Regions from separate parts of the Homo sapiens genome. Here region 2 is linked to region 1. A link means that fine-mapping ties the variant in region 1 to the expression of a gene that starts in the linked region. Tissue or cell type: whole blood. Region 1 holds a variant in brackets; the other region holds the start of a gene. All regions are shown on one strand. Distances are from middle to middle.

Region 1 (8,103 bases):
CCTCCACCACGCCCACTTCCCGCTGTGGCTTCTGCAACCGCCCAGGCGCCACCAACACCTGCACCCAGTGTTCAAAAGTCTCATGTGACGCCTGCCTCAGCGCTTACCATTATGACCCCTGCTACAAAAAGAGTGAGCTGCACAAGTTCATGCCCAACAACCAGCTGAACTACAAGTCCACCCAGCTCTCCCATCTCGTGTACAGATAGACCGGCCTCGCCCCTTCCAGCTCCAAGGGCTACATCAACCGACCTTTCGGGTTTCACGGTGAAGAAGTACTAACGCATTGATCTCAGAGGCGGAGGCCTGCACTTGACCATGTAGGTGGCAGAGATCGTGGGCTGGCTGTGTCCACGTGGGAGTTCACTTAGCGACTCAGATATCTCAACCAATGGCTGCTTTGTTGTCTGACAAGGGAGAAGGTGGCACTTCCGTTCAGATTCATTTTGCTAATCTCTCCACTCCCTGTTCAGTTGGTTCTTTTTTTGGGGTTTTGTTTTGTTTTGTTTTGTTGTTTTGTTTTTTCCTTTAAAGAGGATTTCTGTCTCTGGGACCCTCGCTGCACCTACCCCTCCCATTGCAAAGCCAACTTGGACTGGGAAGGGCCCTTCAGGTCACCAAACATCCACCTGGAGCGGCGAGCTAGAGGCCTGTTGGCTTGTGAAATGAGCCCTCCTGCCACACGGGGCCTCTCCCAAAGGCTCATCCCTTGGCCGCCCCCTTCCTAAACACAAGGATCCCCAGCTGGACTCCCCACCCCCTGGCTTCCCCACCTCTCCAGGTGTCAAAGGTGAACCGAGTCCAGTATTAGCTGAATGTCATTTCGTACACCACAGCTCAGTCAGCCCATGGCCTTCGTGAACTTTGCTCCAACACACTGATGTGTGGGCTTCCCACAGCAGGACTGACTTCCCCCTTTCTGTTGTTTGCACATGCCCCTCTTACTGTACTGTCAATAGATATTTTTGAGATTTATTTTTAAATAAATATTCAACTTGCTGTGTGTTTCAACGTGGTTAAAAAAATGAATTATGTAGCTATTTATTAAATGCCCTGGGTTCTTTAGTCTTCCAAGGGAGGGCCTCGCGCCCATTCGTGTTGTATCCTCCACTCACTATGGCCCGAGGGGAGAGGAGAGTTTGGGGCAGGGAGGAACAGACATGAAGCCTCCTTTTCTTGAGCTGGTGGAGAGCCACTGTCTTCCCTGCAGTAACTATCTATACACCTACCTCCAGTGTGCACTTAGGGGGTGAGCGCGGGTGTCGAGGTCTGTGTGTCTGCAGACTGCTAACCTATGACAATTCAGGGACCTCACCTGTCGGACCTATAGCTTGCTGAGCAGGAACCTTGCACTTCACACTTCTTGAGTCTCGTTTCAGAAGGAAAATCATTTGGGATTCCTACTGCCCCTCCATCTCAATCCTCTTCTCTTCACCAGTTTCCAGGACTCATCTGCAACATTTGCAATCTTTTTGCACTAAAAGTGGGCAGGAGTCGGCATGTGCCCATCAGAGAGACGGCTCCTCAGATGCTCAGCTAAGCCTAAGCGCTTCCAAGCCTGAAGGCCCCTTCAGCTTCTCATGTGAATTACCAACCCCTGGATTTTCCTTGTGGGGGTACAAGAGCAGGAGTGGGGCAAGAGTTTGAAAATAAAGCCGCTTCCTTGTGAACTAACTATATTTTAGCCATAACTGTTTGTGATGTACACAATGTTAAGGGATTTATATGCAGTGGGCTTTTCTGGGAGAAAGTTATTCAGCTCTTGAGCAAGTTTAAGTCTGGCTGAATCCTGAGGCCACTGTGAATTTGCTGATGTTCTTCCAACTCAGTTGAGTGATTTTAAGGTTTTCCAAATCTTCTATGGCTCTCTTTTTAATATATATATATATATATATATATATATATATATATATATATATATATATCTATCTGGTAGATCACATGTAGATGTACAGTGTGTATATTAAGCTGAATTTCAACCAACTTTATTACTAAGACCAGCCTAGCAGGGCATTCATCTTTGATGTTCTTCCTTTTCACATTTCAGAATCGGCAATGCCTGGCCCACTCCTGAGAGCTCTAGTTTTCTAGTTTTCCATTTCCAGATTGCGCCAGCATTACAGTAACTAACTCTTTCTAACCAACCGTGATGCCACGTAACTTACCCTATGGACAAAAGCAGGAATGACTAACACATCCTAGGAGGGAAAGTCCAGTGTACCTGTCATCACGGACGCACTGTGGTCACAGACTGGAATACGAAATACTACAGCCCTGCTCCCAGGTGTGCATCTTACTGGATGAGGTTGCTGTGATTGAGATAGTTAAATACATGCTAATTTAAAAATGCAGATGTTTTACATTTGATTTCTACCAAGAGTTGAAATGTTGAGAGATGATTAAAAATAATAATAATAAAGTGTCTTCCATTGTTAAATGAAGTGTTTGGGGTTTTATGTCCCCTGGCCCTGCTTTGAAGTTTGGTTACTTGGGAGTTTATTTTTCCTTAAGCTGTATTTAGTTTTTTAATGACAAGACTTAAATTTTCTCTTCCATGAAACTGACAAATAGCATTTGAGTGCTATACTGCGAGCCTGGCACTTTTTATTTTTTTAATTTTTTGTAAAAAAAATTTTTTTTTTTTTCGAGACGGAGTCTTGCTCTGTCGCCCAGGCTGGAGCACAGTGGCGCTATGTCAGCTCACTGCAAGTTCCGCCTCTTGGGTTCACGCCATTCTCCTGCCTCAGCCTCCCAAGTAGCTGGGACTACCACACCTGGCTAATTTTTCGTTATTTTTAGTAGAGACGGGATTTCACTGTATTAGCCAGGATGGTCTCGATCTCCTGTCCTCGTGATCTGCCTGCCTCGGCCTCCCAAAGTGCTGGGATTATAGGTGTGATCCACTACGCCCGGCCATGTTTTTTTTTTTTAGTTTAAGACGGGCTCTGTTACTTCCCAGTCTGGAGTACGGTTGTGTGATCATGGCTAGCTGTAGCCTGGACCTCTTGGACTTGAGTGATCCTCCCACCTCAGCCTCCCAAGTAGCTACAGGTGGGCACCACTATGTCTGGCTAATTTTAATTTTTTGTAGAGGTGGGGTCTCACTATATTGCCCAGGCTGGTCTCAATCTCCTAGGCTCGAGTGATCCTCCCGCCAGGCATTTGTATCCTGAGACTATGTGCATGATCTTACTTACTAGCTTCAGTCATCCTATTAAATAGGCACTGTTACCATCTCCATCTTACATATGGGGAAATGGCGGTACACAGAGTTCAGATGTTTCCCAAAGAGGGGACTGCATCATCCAGGAGAAATGCTTGTTAGTAGAGACAAAGAGGCATTAATAACATTGGAAGATGTTTTTTAAAAGTTAATTCCATTTGAATTTTTTTCCATCCATTTAACTGTCTTGAGGAGGGAGTCAGTTCGATGCTACCTTGTCTTTAACAGAGAAACCTGGCATCAGACACAGCGTGTGGCAGGCTCTTAGCCAGGTTTTGTTACCTTCTAGGGCAGGCCATACTACTTTTCCATTGTAACAGTGATAGGTTTGCTTTAAAAATCAATTTAAGGGCCGGGTGCGGTGGCTCACGCCTGTAATCCCAGCACTTTGGGAGGCCGAGGCAGGAGGATCACCTGAGGTTAGGAGGTTGACTAGCCTGGCCAACATGGTGAAACCCCGTCTCTACTAAAAATACAAAAATTAGCTGGGCATGGTGGCGGGTGCCTGTAATCCCAGCTACTTAGGAAGCTGAGGCAGGAGAATCGCCTGAACCCGAGAGACGGAGGTTATAATGAGCCAAGATTGTGCCATTGCACTCCGGCCTGGGTTGACAGGAGTGAAACTCCATCTTGGAAAAACAAAACAAAACAAAAAAGGTGTTTTTTTCTTAAGTGAGGATTGACTTAAAAGCAAAATACATGGCAGAAATCTTAAGGCAGCAGCAGCAGGCCTGTGCCCACCCACTGACCACGCTGCTGTGTGGGCTCCCACCAGGCAGCTCAGCTGTCAGGGCAGACACTGAACAGGTTTCTCCATTTCATTTGCTGGCTGAACAAATACCCAGGCCTTGGGCCAAAGCCAGGCTCAGGTGCTGGATTGCTTTGAG[C/T]TATAGCATAGGAAACGGCATTGCCACCCTGGCTGTCGGGGGTAGCAGTTTCCTGGAGACGCACACCTACCCTGGGAGAGCTAAGGAAGCCAGGTGCTTGCTCCGCATCCAAAAGGGAACAGAGACTTCAGAGCAGATTGCTTCATGTACATTACATGTACATGTAAATGACAAACATATTTAAACCTCATTGGGCCCACCAGCTGGACAGCATTAGCTCTGCTGGCCGATCTGTGGCACCTAGGATGCTAGATTACCAATCTCAGGGATGAGAGCTGTGGCAGACACCAAATCGTACCCCAGTCTCCATCCCCTCCCCCTTGGTAGTAGAAGCCCCGGTTTTCAAATCTGTGGCCACCTATAGTAAAGATTGCCTTCCCTAGCCTTTCCTGCAGCCACGTGTGGTCAGATGACTGTCTGGTCCCTGGATGGAGAGGTGCTTTGTGTGGTGTCTGGGCATGGCCTTCAAGGAAGGGAGCTTGCCCTTCCCACCCAGCCCTTCTTCCTGGCTGGAATGGCTGTGATGGCTGGAGATGGAGCTGCTCTATGAAGCTGAGGGGGCCAAGCGAGGAAGGGGTGGGCAGCAGCTACAGCAGCTGGCCCTGATGCTCTGGAAGCTGCCCCCATGGCCTGCCCGTGCTGCCTGCCTCTAGGTCTGTTATATGAAAAATAAACTGTTATCTCACTTAAGCCCCAATTTGTCTATTTTTTTTTTTCTTTGAGACGGAGTCTCGCTCTGTCACCCAGGCTGGAATGCAGTGGCGCAATCTCGGCTCACTGCAAGCTCTGCCTCCCGGGTTCACACCATTCTCCTGCCTCAGCCTCCTGAGTAGCTGGGACTACAGGCACCTGCCACCACGCCCGGCTAATTTTTTGTATTTTTAGTAGAGACGGGGTTTCACCATGTTAGCCAGGATGGTCTCGATCTCCTTACCTCGTGATCCACCCGCCTCGGCCTCCCAAAGCGCTGGGATTACAGGCGTGAGCCACCACGCCCGGCCTAATTTGTCTGTTTTTAAAACCTTTTTGTTTACAAAAGACATGAAGCCTAATCTGGGCAACATAGTGAGACCCCATTAAAAAAAAATTAGCTGGGATGGTGGCACATGCCTTTGGTCCCCAGCTACTTGGGAGGCTGAGGTGGGAGGATCACTTGAGGCCAGAAGTTCCAGGCTTCACTGAGCTGTGATGGCACCAGTGCAGTCCAGCGTGGGCAGCAGAGTGAGACCCTGTCTCAAAAAAAAAAAAAAAAAAAAAGCAAAAAAGTGATACTAGTATAATGAATCCCAGCTTCAGCAATTGAACAGTTAGTTACCAACTTGTGGCCAATCTGGTTTTGTCTCTACCCTTGCCATCCACTTTCCTACTCCTGAACTCTTCTGAAGCAAATTCTAGATGTCTGTCTCATTTGTGAATTTTTCAGTGTTTATCTAAGAGACGAGGGCTTTTAAAACATGATACCTGCTACGGACTGCATATGTCCCCCCAAGAAAAAACAAACGTTGAAATCTAATCCCCCCAGTGTGCTTGTATTAGGAGGGCACTTTGGGAGCTGATTAGGTCATGTGGGTGGGGCCTTCACGAATGGGATGGGTGCCCTTACAAGGGGCTGAAGAGAATGGAGTTCTCCCAGCACAGGAAGACCCAGCGAGCTGACCGTCTGTGAACCAGGAATTGGGCCCTTGCCAGACACTGAATCTACCAGTGCCTTAATCTTGGACTTCTCAGCCTCCAGAACTAAGATAAATAAATTTTTGTTGTATAAAAGCTACCCAGTCTGTGGTATTTTGCAGCCTGAACAGGCTGAGACAGTATTACCTTCACATCTAACTTTTTTCTTGCGACGTGTTTGTTGAGGAAACTGGATTATTTGTCCTTTAGAGTTTGCCAGAGCCTAAATGTTTACTTCAGCCTGCTTGTTGTTTTAGCACTGGGAGTAGTTGTTCTCTCTGTTTACCTCCAATTTCCTACTGTTTATTTGCACATATTGTGCAAAAGTAGAAAAATAAATACTTCTTATGGGAATGATTCAAGGCTGCAGCTTCATAAATGAGAGATGAGAGGAAATCACTTAAGGCAGGGGTGAGCTTAAGGGATGGGAGTAGGTCCAGGTTTTCAGACATGCGAATCTCCACTGGTAACATATTTCAGGTCCTATGTGAGGAGGAGGAGGCGGTTCAAGTGGAACTGCAGGACTATACGGCGTTCTATTTTTAATGTTTTGAGGAGTCTCCATACTGTTTCCATAGCAGCTGTACCCATTTTATCATTTTTATTTATATTTTAATTAATTTTCTTATTGTACACCTGAACTTAATATATTTTATTTTTTTGAGATAGAGTCTGACTCCGATTACCCAGGCTAAAATACAGTTGGCATGATCTTAGCTCACTGCAGCCTCGACCTCCCAGGCTCAGGTGATCCTCCCACCTCAGTCGCCGGAGTAGCTGGGATGACAGAGGCACGCCACCATGCCTGGCTAATTTTTTTGTATTTTTAGTAGAGACGGGGTTTCATCATATTGCACAAGCTGGTCTCAAACTCCTGGACTCAAGCGATCCACCTGCCTCAGCCTCCCAAAGTGCTGAGATTACAGGCATGAGCCACCACACCCGGCCAGCGGTACCATTTTATATTCCCACCTGCAGCACAGGAGTCCCCATTTCTCCACCTCTTTGCTAACGCTTGTTATTTTCTGGGGTTTGTTTGTTTTTATAGCAGCCTTCCTAATGGGGTGAGATGATATCTTATTGTTTTGATTCATATTTCTCTAATGATTAGTGATGTTGAGCATCTTTTCATATGCTTTTCGGCCATTTATATATCTTCTTTGGAGAAATGTCTATTCAAGTCCTTTGCTCACTTTTAATTTTTGTTATTTTAAAAATAGAGACGGGATCTCTCTATGTTGCCCAGGCTTGTCTCAAACTCCTGGGCTCAAATTATCTCCTATCTCGGCCTCCTAAAGTGCTGGGACTACAGGCATGAGCCACTGTGCCCAGCCCTTTGCCCACTTTTTAATTGGGTAAATTTTTTGTTTTTTATTTGCAGTTCTTTATATAGTCTGGATATTGATCCCTTATCAGATACATGATTTGCAAATATTTTCTCCCATTCCATAGGTTATCTTTTTCATACTGTTATTTCTTTTGATGTGCAAAAATTTAAAAGTTTGATGTAGTCGGCTGGGCGTGATGGCTCACACCTGTAATCTTAGCACTTTCGGAGGCTGAGGTGGGCAGATCACCTGAGGTCAGGAGTTTGAGGCCAGCCTGGCCAACATGGTGAAACCCCATCTCTACTAAAAATACAAAAATTAGCTGGGTGTGGTGGCGCATGCCTGTAATCCCAGCTACTCAGGAGGCTGAGGCAGGAGAATCGCTTGAACCCAGGAGGCAAAGATTGCAGTGAGCCAAGATTGCGCCACTGCACTCCAGCCTGGATAACAGAGCAAGACTCTGTCTCAAAAAAAAAAAAAAAAAAAAAAGTTTGATGTAATCCCATTTGTCTATTTTCGCTTTTACTGCCTATGCTTTTGGTATAATATCTAAGAAATCATTGCCAAATCCAATGTCATGAAGTTTCCCCTTAAGTTGTCTTTATAGTTTTGGGTCATACATTTAGGTCTTTTATCTATTTTGAGGTAATTTTTGTATACAGAATAAGGTAGGGGTCTAACTTCATTCCTTTCCTTATGAATGTCCAGTTTTCCCAACACTATCTGGTGAAGAGACAGTCCTTTCCCCATTGAGTGGTTTTGGTACTCCTGTCGAACATCATTTGACCATATATGTGAGGGTTTATTTTTGGGCTCTCTATTCCATTCCATTGGTCTATGAGTGTATACCTGTTTTCATGCCAGTACCACACTAGTTTGATTACTGTAGCTCTGTAATATACTTTGAAATCATGAAGTGTAACGCCTCCACCTTTGTTCTTTTTAAAGATTGTTTTGGCTATTCAGGGTCCCTTGAGATCCCATATGAATTTTA
Region 2 (8,103 bases), 35 kb before region 1:
GGGTTCAGCTCAGCCAGGCGCGGTGGCTCATGCCTGTAATCCCAGCACTTTGGGAGGCCGAGGCGGGCAGATCACAAGGTCAGGAGATCGAGACCATCCTGGCTAACACAGTGAAACCCCGTCTCTACTAAAAATACAAAAATTAGCTGGGAGTGGTGGCGGGTGCCTGTAGTCCCAGCTACTCGGGAGGCTTAGGCAGGAGAATGGCATGAACCCAGGACGCAGAGCTTGCAGTGAGCCAAGATCGCGCCACTGCACTCCATCCAGCCTGGGAGACAGAGCGAGACTCCGTCTCAAAAAAAAAAAAAAAAGGGTTCAGATGGATCCTTTTGTAGTTCATGAACCTGAGGACTGGGTGTTCATGTGCATGTGTGAGATGTGCCACCCTCGAACCTTGTTACAGATGTTGGCCCATTACCCCTCTGGCATTTTAAAAAAAGAGGTCAGCTAGCAGAGGAAGGGAAGACTATTCTAGGCCTAATTTAGGCTTAAAATTGATATGTATCTGAGGAAATAAAAATCTAACAGACTTTTCCTCATAAACAGTAGGGAGCCAGGAGTTTAAAAGGAAGGTATTAACAAAACAAGGCCAAATCCAGGTTTCAGAAAAATATCTCTGTGCTATCATGGAAAACAAAGTTTTGTTACTTTTTTTTTTTTTTTTTTTTTTGAGACAGAGTCGTGCTCTGTTGCCCAGGCTGAAGTGCAATGGTGCAATCTCGGCTCACTGCAAAATCTGCCTCCCCGGTCCAAGCGATTCTCCTGCTTCAGACTCCCAAGTGGCTGGGGTTACAGGCGCGCATGACCACACCCAGCTAATTTTATATTTTTAGTAGAGACGGGGTTTCACCACGTTAGCCAGGCTGGTCTCGAACTCCTGACCTCTGGTGATCCACCCGTCTTGGCCTCCCAAAGTGCTGGGATTACAGGTGTGAGCCACTGAGCCCAGCCCTATAGTTTTTTTTTTTTTTAGGTGAGAAGGTGAGAAGAGACAAAGTAGAAACCAAACAGATGGCTAAAGGCAGAGGATTGTGAGGGTCTGACTGAAGCAGCAGGGGATGAATTCAGGAAACCATTCACAGAAAGGTAGAATCAGGAGGACTTGATAACTTACTGACTTTGAAGAAAAGAAGTCAAAGATGACCGAGTTCCTATCCTGAAGCCTAGGAAGATGGTAATGCTGAGATAAGGCATACAGAAAGAATGGAGAAGACACCCTGGGCTACTTACCCAACCTGATAGATTAAGACAGTATAACCAAATCTGCCAGAAAGAACTAAAGATATATAATGAAAGGCCATCTTCTGAACACTTGACCATTTTCTACTGCCTCTAAGAATCTCCTTCCTCCTTGTCATTAAGTTAGATGTTAATGCTGTTAGGCAAAATTCCAGACCAGGTACAGAGAAGGTGAGGGAGTCTATTCATTCACCACTGAGGGCAATGGAAACTTGACAAAGCCCTGTTCTCATGATGCTTACATTCTAGAGTGAAGGGAAACACAAATGTTAATTTCAGATAGTGATTAAAAATATGAAGGAAATATGGCAAACAGACCAGCTGGGGTGATCATAGAAAGCTGCTTCTGAGGAGTTGGCATTTGAGCTGGGTGGGACCTGATTACGAGGACAGCCACACAGATCTGGGTGCAGAGCTCCACACCAAGATCACGCCACACACAAATGAGGACTGGAAAGGAAGGCAGGCAGACCTTGGGGGCCATGATGCGGTAGACCATGGTGAGAAGGGCAAGTGATGAGGCAGTAGAGACAGGCAGGGCCTGTGGCCATCACTTGTGTTGCCTGTTCACAAAGGCAGATGACAAGAGGAACCCAAGAGAGCACAGAGGGTCCAGTGAGTATAATGGAACCAAACCCAGCATGCAGATAAAAGCAGCTCGAAGTCTCTTCTCAAGCACACACACAGGTACAGCTCATCTATCAAATGTTCACGAGTCACTTTGTGCCTGAGACATGCCCAAACTACCAGCCTGCTTTTGAACAACTCAAATATCCTGGGATGGCTTTTCAGTTTCTATTTCCTACTTATGCGCCCTTTTCTAGTTCAGCCTTCCGATGCTCCACTCCGTCACAGTGCTAGGAAGAAATTCCCTTCTCTTGGGCACCCAGCCAGCTGCCTTTCTCCAGCTGTATTCTACCAGATTGGAGAACACAGTCATTCAGGGCTTGAAATAAAGTTTTATAAAAATCCAATGCCCCAGCCAGAGTTGCAGTGATGCTCAACTTTCCAAGCACAAAAGGTAAAAATCAACTAGGCACAGGAGAAAGCAGTCGGTTGGAGCTAGCGGGGATTTGGGCTGCCCTCACAGAGGTGCTTCCATCTGTCTTCAATTTGCACTGAACTGCTGATCACGTGGGGCTAGGACAGCGAGGATAGAGAAGAGCCAAGGTTTGAAAACCAGTACTGTTCCTTGCCCTCTGACCTAGGAAAGGTTCACCAAGCTCAAGAAAATCTCAAATTTTGCTGCTCTTCATTTAGCAAACTGTGCTGGGTCTAGCCTTTTTACAAATGTTAATAGTAAATGAAATCCACTGAATTAATCCAAAATCAGGTAAATCTGATCCAAGGATAAGTGGATTCAATGAAAAAGCTAAAGACCACTTCAACTCTCGTGAAGCTTGCTTACACGACTTATTAGTTCATTCAACCATTACCTGATCACTCACCCCACGCACAGAGGTGTGATCCCTGAAATACCCTCCCACTTGCAGAATGAATTTTTACAATAGTTTGACCAGTCATTGGTACTTATTTATAATCAATTCACTGGACTGTAAACTCTGAAGGCAGAGTCTACCCCAAAATCTGGCACACAGAGGCCATTCCAGTCAGTTCAGGGGCAATAAAGATATGGCCACTCCGTCATGAGCTGTTAAGTTTTGCTCTGTGCAAGCAAGGAGAAGGAAGTTAAGTCCCAGAAAGGAAGTGGGGGAAGTAATTTAGATGGGGATGGTATTTGGTGAGGTAACTTAACCTGGGACTTGAAGCCTGAAAAGGGAGGGGTGGGGGGAAGAGTTCCAGGCTAACCGAATTGCAAAGATGAATAGCCTAAAGCAACATGATGAAGCAAAAAGCAGCCAGCTAGGTGCCAAGCACTGTTCTCTGGACTACTGAAATGGTCACCTGCAGTACATCTGGGAAGAGCTAGGCCACGGTGACCCTTCCCTAAGAGAGCCTCGGACCCTCAGTGTATTCACCTGTAAAATGGCTGCCAACCCTCCCCCGCTGCAGGGTGGCTATAGAATAATGCCCATGGAGTGCAATGGCTACTGTGCCCGCTGCCAAGACCAATGCCAAGGTGATCCCACGATAAGCACTGAGAGGGGCCAGAGGAAAAGCCAATTCTGAGGCAAGAAGCAGGTGGCCACGTTGTCTACAATTCTTTCAACTCAGATGTGTTTGTGCGTCTGATGGAACAAGGCTTAGATTCAAATCGACCAACCTGACCAACCTCGAAAGCCCCGGCCACAGCCCAGGACCTGGACTGGACATTTATACACATATCTGCTTTAATCATTATAACCACTCTATTCACAATATTCAGGTCATGAAGGCTTAATTGAAAACTGAAAGAAACAAACCTCCTACACAGGAAGTAGAATGCTAACAATCCCATCTGCCAACTCCCACCCCCCTTTCACAGCTAAGGGCAAACTGGCCAGATCCCCATAAAGACTTCCCTTTTGTTGTTTTAGTCTAGTTCAGCGTTTCTCCCGACTTTAGTGCACAGTAGAATAACTCGCCACAGCTAGACACGACGCCAAATGTCCTATGCTTTAAGAGCGACGTGGACTAGAAAGGAAACGTCGGCTCTCCAAGGGCGGACTTCGGAGCCTAAAGTCCCCGCAGGGCACGAGTCCACTATCACGTGTGGGAAGGAGACTGACAGGCCGCCTGGAACATCGCAGGCGCTCAACAGACAGCAGCTGCCCCGCTAAGACGGGCGGAGGAACGGGATACTTAGGAGTGAGCGGGGCGGGACAGAAGAGCGCCCCGGCAGCTTTCACGGCCCTTAGGAGCCCCGGGGGACACCCCCGGGAGGCCCCTCTGGGTGGGTCCTCTGGCTCCCGCCCTGAGACCCATCTCGCTCCTCGGCTCCATTCCCTTCCCAGTTAAGCGCCCCCCGACCAGGCCCGGGCTCGCCGCTTACACGTGTCCGCAGGGCACCTGTACCGGCTTCTCGTACACCTCTAAGCACACGGGACACGTGAAGCGTCCTAGGGGGTCAGCCTCCGCCGCCGGCCCCGCCAGCTGCGCAGCACCCCCGCAGTCCCGCTGTTGCGCCGCCATCTTGCTGCCGCTCTGCGCCGCGCAACGGCGGCCGATGAGGAGGAGGCCGAGGGGGCGGGGCTCGCGGGGCGGTGAGCGGTTGGGGGCGGGGCTAGCGGGTGGGCCGCCCCTCGGGGCCCCTCTGACGCAAGCGAGCTAGAGGCCGAGGGAAATCTGGAAAACGTGGAAGCCAAATCCAAAGGCTGCCAGAATTGGGACGGGCTCTGCGCGTGGGCCGCTGTTTTCCAAATTTATCGTTAGTTCGGCACCACTTGCACTATCACTATTTATCTTCGAATCAAGTTGCTTTTTCCTTAAATTTATTTATTTATTTATTTAATCTATTTTGGGACAAGGTCTTGCTTTGTCGCCCAGGCTGGTGTTCAGTGGCGCGCGCGATCATGGCTCCCTGCAGCCTCGACCACCGGGGTTCAAGCGATCCTCCCACCTCAGCCTCCTGCGTAGCTGGACCACAGGCAGTCACCACCATGCCGGACTAATTTATTTATTTTTGTATTTTTTGTAGAGACGGGGAAAGGAGGGGGGGAAGGAGTGGTGCAGAGAGCGGGCGGGTCTCACTGTGTTGCCGAGGCTGGCCTCGAACTCTTGGACGCAAGCAATCCGCCTGCCTCGGCAACCCGAAGTGCTGGGATTACAGCGGTGAGCCACAGTACCCAGCCATTTCTTAAATTTAAGCAAATTCTAATAACAGATCTAATTCCTGAGCTGCAAGAAGAAAATCAATATCATTTATTTATACAAAGGAGCTGGGCAAGGTGGCTTACTTCTGTAATCTCAGCACTTTGGGAGGCCGAGGTGGGCGGATCGCTTGAGCCTAGGAGTACTAGAGCAGCCTGGCCAACATGGTGAAACCCCGTCTCTACTAACAATACTAAAATTAGCCAGGCGTGGTTGCCCATGCCTGTAGCCTCAGCTACTCAGGACGCTGAGGCAGGAAAAGCCTTTGACCTGGGAGGCGAAGGTTGCCGTGGGCCAAGATGGCTCACTCACTCCAACAGTCACTAAACTCCAGCCTGGGCAACAAGAACGAAACTCCGTCTGAAAAAAAAAAAAAAAAACAAAAACACAACCTGGCTAACACGGTGAAACCCTGTCTCTACTAAAAATACAAAAAATTAGCCGGGCGTGGTGGCGGGCGCCTGTAGTCCCAGCTACTCGGGAGGCTGAGGCAGGAGAATGGCTTGAACCTGGGAGGCGGAGCTTGCAGTGAGCCAAGATCTTGCCACTGCACTCCAGTCTGGGCGACAGCGCGAGACTCCCTCTCAAAAAACAACAACAACAACAACAAAACAAAACAAAAAAACCCCAACAACAAAGTACATTCATTTCATATTGTGCAATCATCACCATCAGCTATCTCTAAAATTCTGGTCTTCTTGCTAAACTGAAACTGAAATTCTGTCCCCATTAAACAATAACTTCCTCTTCCCTCCTCCCATCCCCATACCCCCAGGCCCTGGCAATTTTCTGTCTATGATTTTGAAGCACTTATAGCTATAAAATTTCCCCTGAGCACTGCTTTCACTGTGTCCAGTAAATTTTGGCATGCTGTGTTTTTGTTTTCATTTGTTTCTCAATATTTTCTCTATTTATTTAATTAATTTATTTATTTTGAGATGGAGTCTCACTCTGTCGCCCAGGCTGGAGTGCATTGGTGCAATCTCTGCTCGCTGCAGCCTCCCTCTCCTGGATTCAAGCAATTCCCTTGCCTCAGCCTCCCAAGTAGCTGGGATTACAGGTGCCTGCCACCACGCCTGGCTAATTTTTGTATTTTTAGTAGAGACAGGGTTTCACAATGTTGGCCAGGCTGGTCTCAAACGCCTGACCTCAAGTGATCCGCCAACCTCGGCCTCCCAAAATGCTGGGATTACAGGTGTGAGCCACCCAGCCTGGCCTGTTTCTGAGTATTTTCTAATTTCCCTTGTGATTTCTTCTTTGATCCATTGGTTCTTTTAAGAGTGTGTAAATTTCCACAAATTTGTGAATTTTCCAGTTTTCCTTTGATATTGATTTCTTTTTTTTTTTAACCCCCCCATATTGATTTCTAGCCTTATCCAATTGTGCTTGGAGAAGATATTTGGTATGATCTCTTTTATTTCTTCTTTCTTTCCTTCTTATCTTTCTCTCTTTCTCCTTTTCTTCTGTCTCTTTTTGTAGAGATGAAGTCTGGCTGTGTTGCCCAGGCTGGTTGCAAACTCCTGGGCACGAGCAATCCTCCTGCCTCAGCCTCCCAAAGTGCTGGGATTACAGGCCTAAGCCACCACAGCTGGCTGATGTCTACCTTTTAAAATCTCTTGAGGCTTAATCTGTGGCCTAACATATGGTCCATCCTGGAGGATATCCCATGTGTGCCTGAGAAGAATGTGGATGCTGTTGTTGCTGGGGAGTGTCTGTACATGTGTTAGACCTGGTTGTCTTACTGTGTCGCTCAAGTCCTTTATTTCCTTACTTGTCTCCTGTTTGTTCTATTTATTCTTGGGAGTGGGGCATTGAAGTCTCTAACTATTATTGTGGAATTGTCTATTTCTTCCTTCAATTCTACCAATTTTTGCTTCATATGTTCTGATGGTCTGTTATTAGGTATATAAATGTTTATAATTGTTATATCTTCTTGCTGTATTGAACTTTTTATTAACATACAATGCCTTCTTTATCTCTTGTAACCTTTTGGACAAGTAATTTTTCTTTTTTCTTTTTTTGAGACAGGGTCTTGCTCTGTCGTCCAGGCTGGAGTGCAGTGGTGTGATCTCAGCTCACGGCAACCTCTGTCTCCTGGGTTCAGGTGATTCTCCTGTTTCAGCCTCCTGAGTAGCTGAGACTACAGGCATGCACGACCACGCCTGGCTAATTTTTGTATTTTTAGTAGAGACAGGATTTCACCATATTTTTTAGGCTGGTCTCAAACTCCTGACCTCAGGTGATGCACCCGCCTCGGCCTCCCAAAGTGCTAGGATTACAGGTGTGAGCTACCGTGCCCGGCCTGGACAAGTAATTTTTCTGATATTAGTATTGCCAGCCCTCCTCTTCTTTGGTCACGCAAAAAGATATTTGCATGAAATATCTTTTTCCATCCTTTCAGAACCAGTCTATAAAGTGAGTTTCTTATAGAGAGCAATACAGTTGAATCATGTTCTTTAAAAAAAAAAAAAAAAAAAGCTGGGTATGGCGGCTCATGCCTGTAATCTCAGCAGGAGGAGGCTGAGGCGGGTGGATCACCTGAGGTTAGGAGTTCAAGACCAGCCTGACCAACATGGTGAAACCCTGTTTCTACTAAAAATACAAAAATTAACCGGGCCTGGTGGTGCATGCCTGTAGTCCCAGCTACTTGGGAGGCTGAGGCAGGAGAATCGCTTGAACCTAGGAGGCAGAGGTTGCAGTGAGTGGAGAACGAGCCACTGGACTCCAGCCTGGGCAACAAGAGTGAAACTCAGTCTCAAAAAAAATTTCTTTTAAATTAATTTTTTTTTTTTTTGAGACAGAGTCTCGCTCTGTTGCCCAGGCTGGAGTGCAGTAGCACAATCTCGGCTCACTGCAAGCTCCGCCTCCTGGGTTCACGCCATTCTCCTGCCTCAACCTCCTGAGTAGCTGGGACTACAGGCGCCCACCACCACGCCCGGCTAATTTTTTTTGTATTTTTAGTAGAGACGGGGTTTCACCATGTTAGCCAGGATGGTCTCGATCTCCTGACCTCACGATCGGCCCACCTCGGCCTCCAAAGTGCTAGGGATTACAGGCGTGAGCCATTGTGCCCAGCCTAAATTTTTCCTTCCTTTTTTCCTTCCTTCCTTCCTT

The links. PIP is the estimated chance that this variant, and not a neighbour inherited with it, causes the effect.
Region 2: it holds the start of RNF114, and the variant in region 1 is fine-mapped to the expression of RNF114 in whole blood (TOPMed, PIP above 0.99).

The regions. Positions count from the first base shown.
Region 1 is chr20:49,897,725-49,905,827 of GRCh38, reverse strand. It overlaps SPATA2 (spermatogenesis associated 2), which reads left to right. Exons shown (of 3, transcript NM_006038.4): 3 at 1-2,437. The coding sequence ends at 209. Among named protein-coding and RNA genes, the nearest start is that of SPATA2, 14 kb to the left of the region's middle. The variant C/T (reference allele first, on the strand shown) is at 4,111.
Region 2 is chr20:49,932,621-49,940,723 of GRCh38, reverse strand. RNF114 (ring finger protein 114) reads right to left here and starts at 4,327. Exons shown (of 6, transcript NM_018683.4): 1 at 4,172-4,327. The coding sequence starts at 4,311. It overlaps LOC124904976 (small nucleolar RNA U13), which reads left to right and starts at 324; the gene lies at 324-428. RefSeq lists silencers at 1,038-1,332, 2,958-3,252, 3,538-3,832, 4,291-4,480, 5,047-5,126 and 1 more and an enhancer at 4,073-4,678.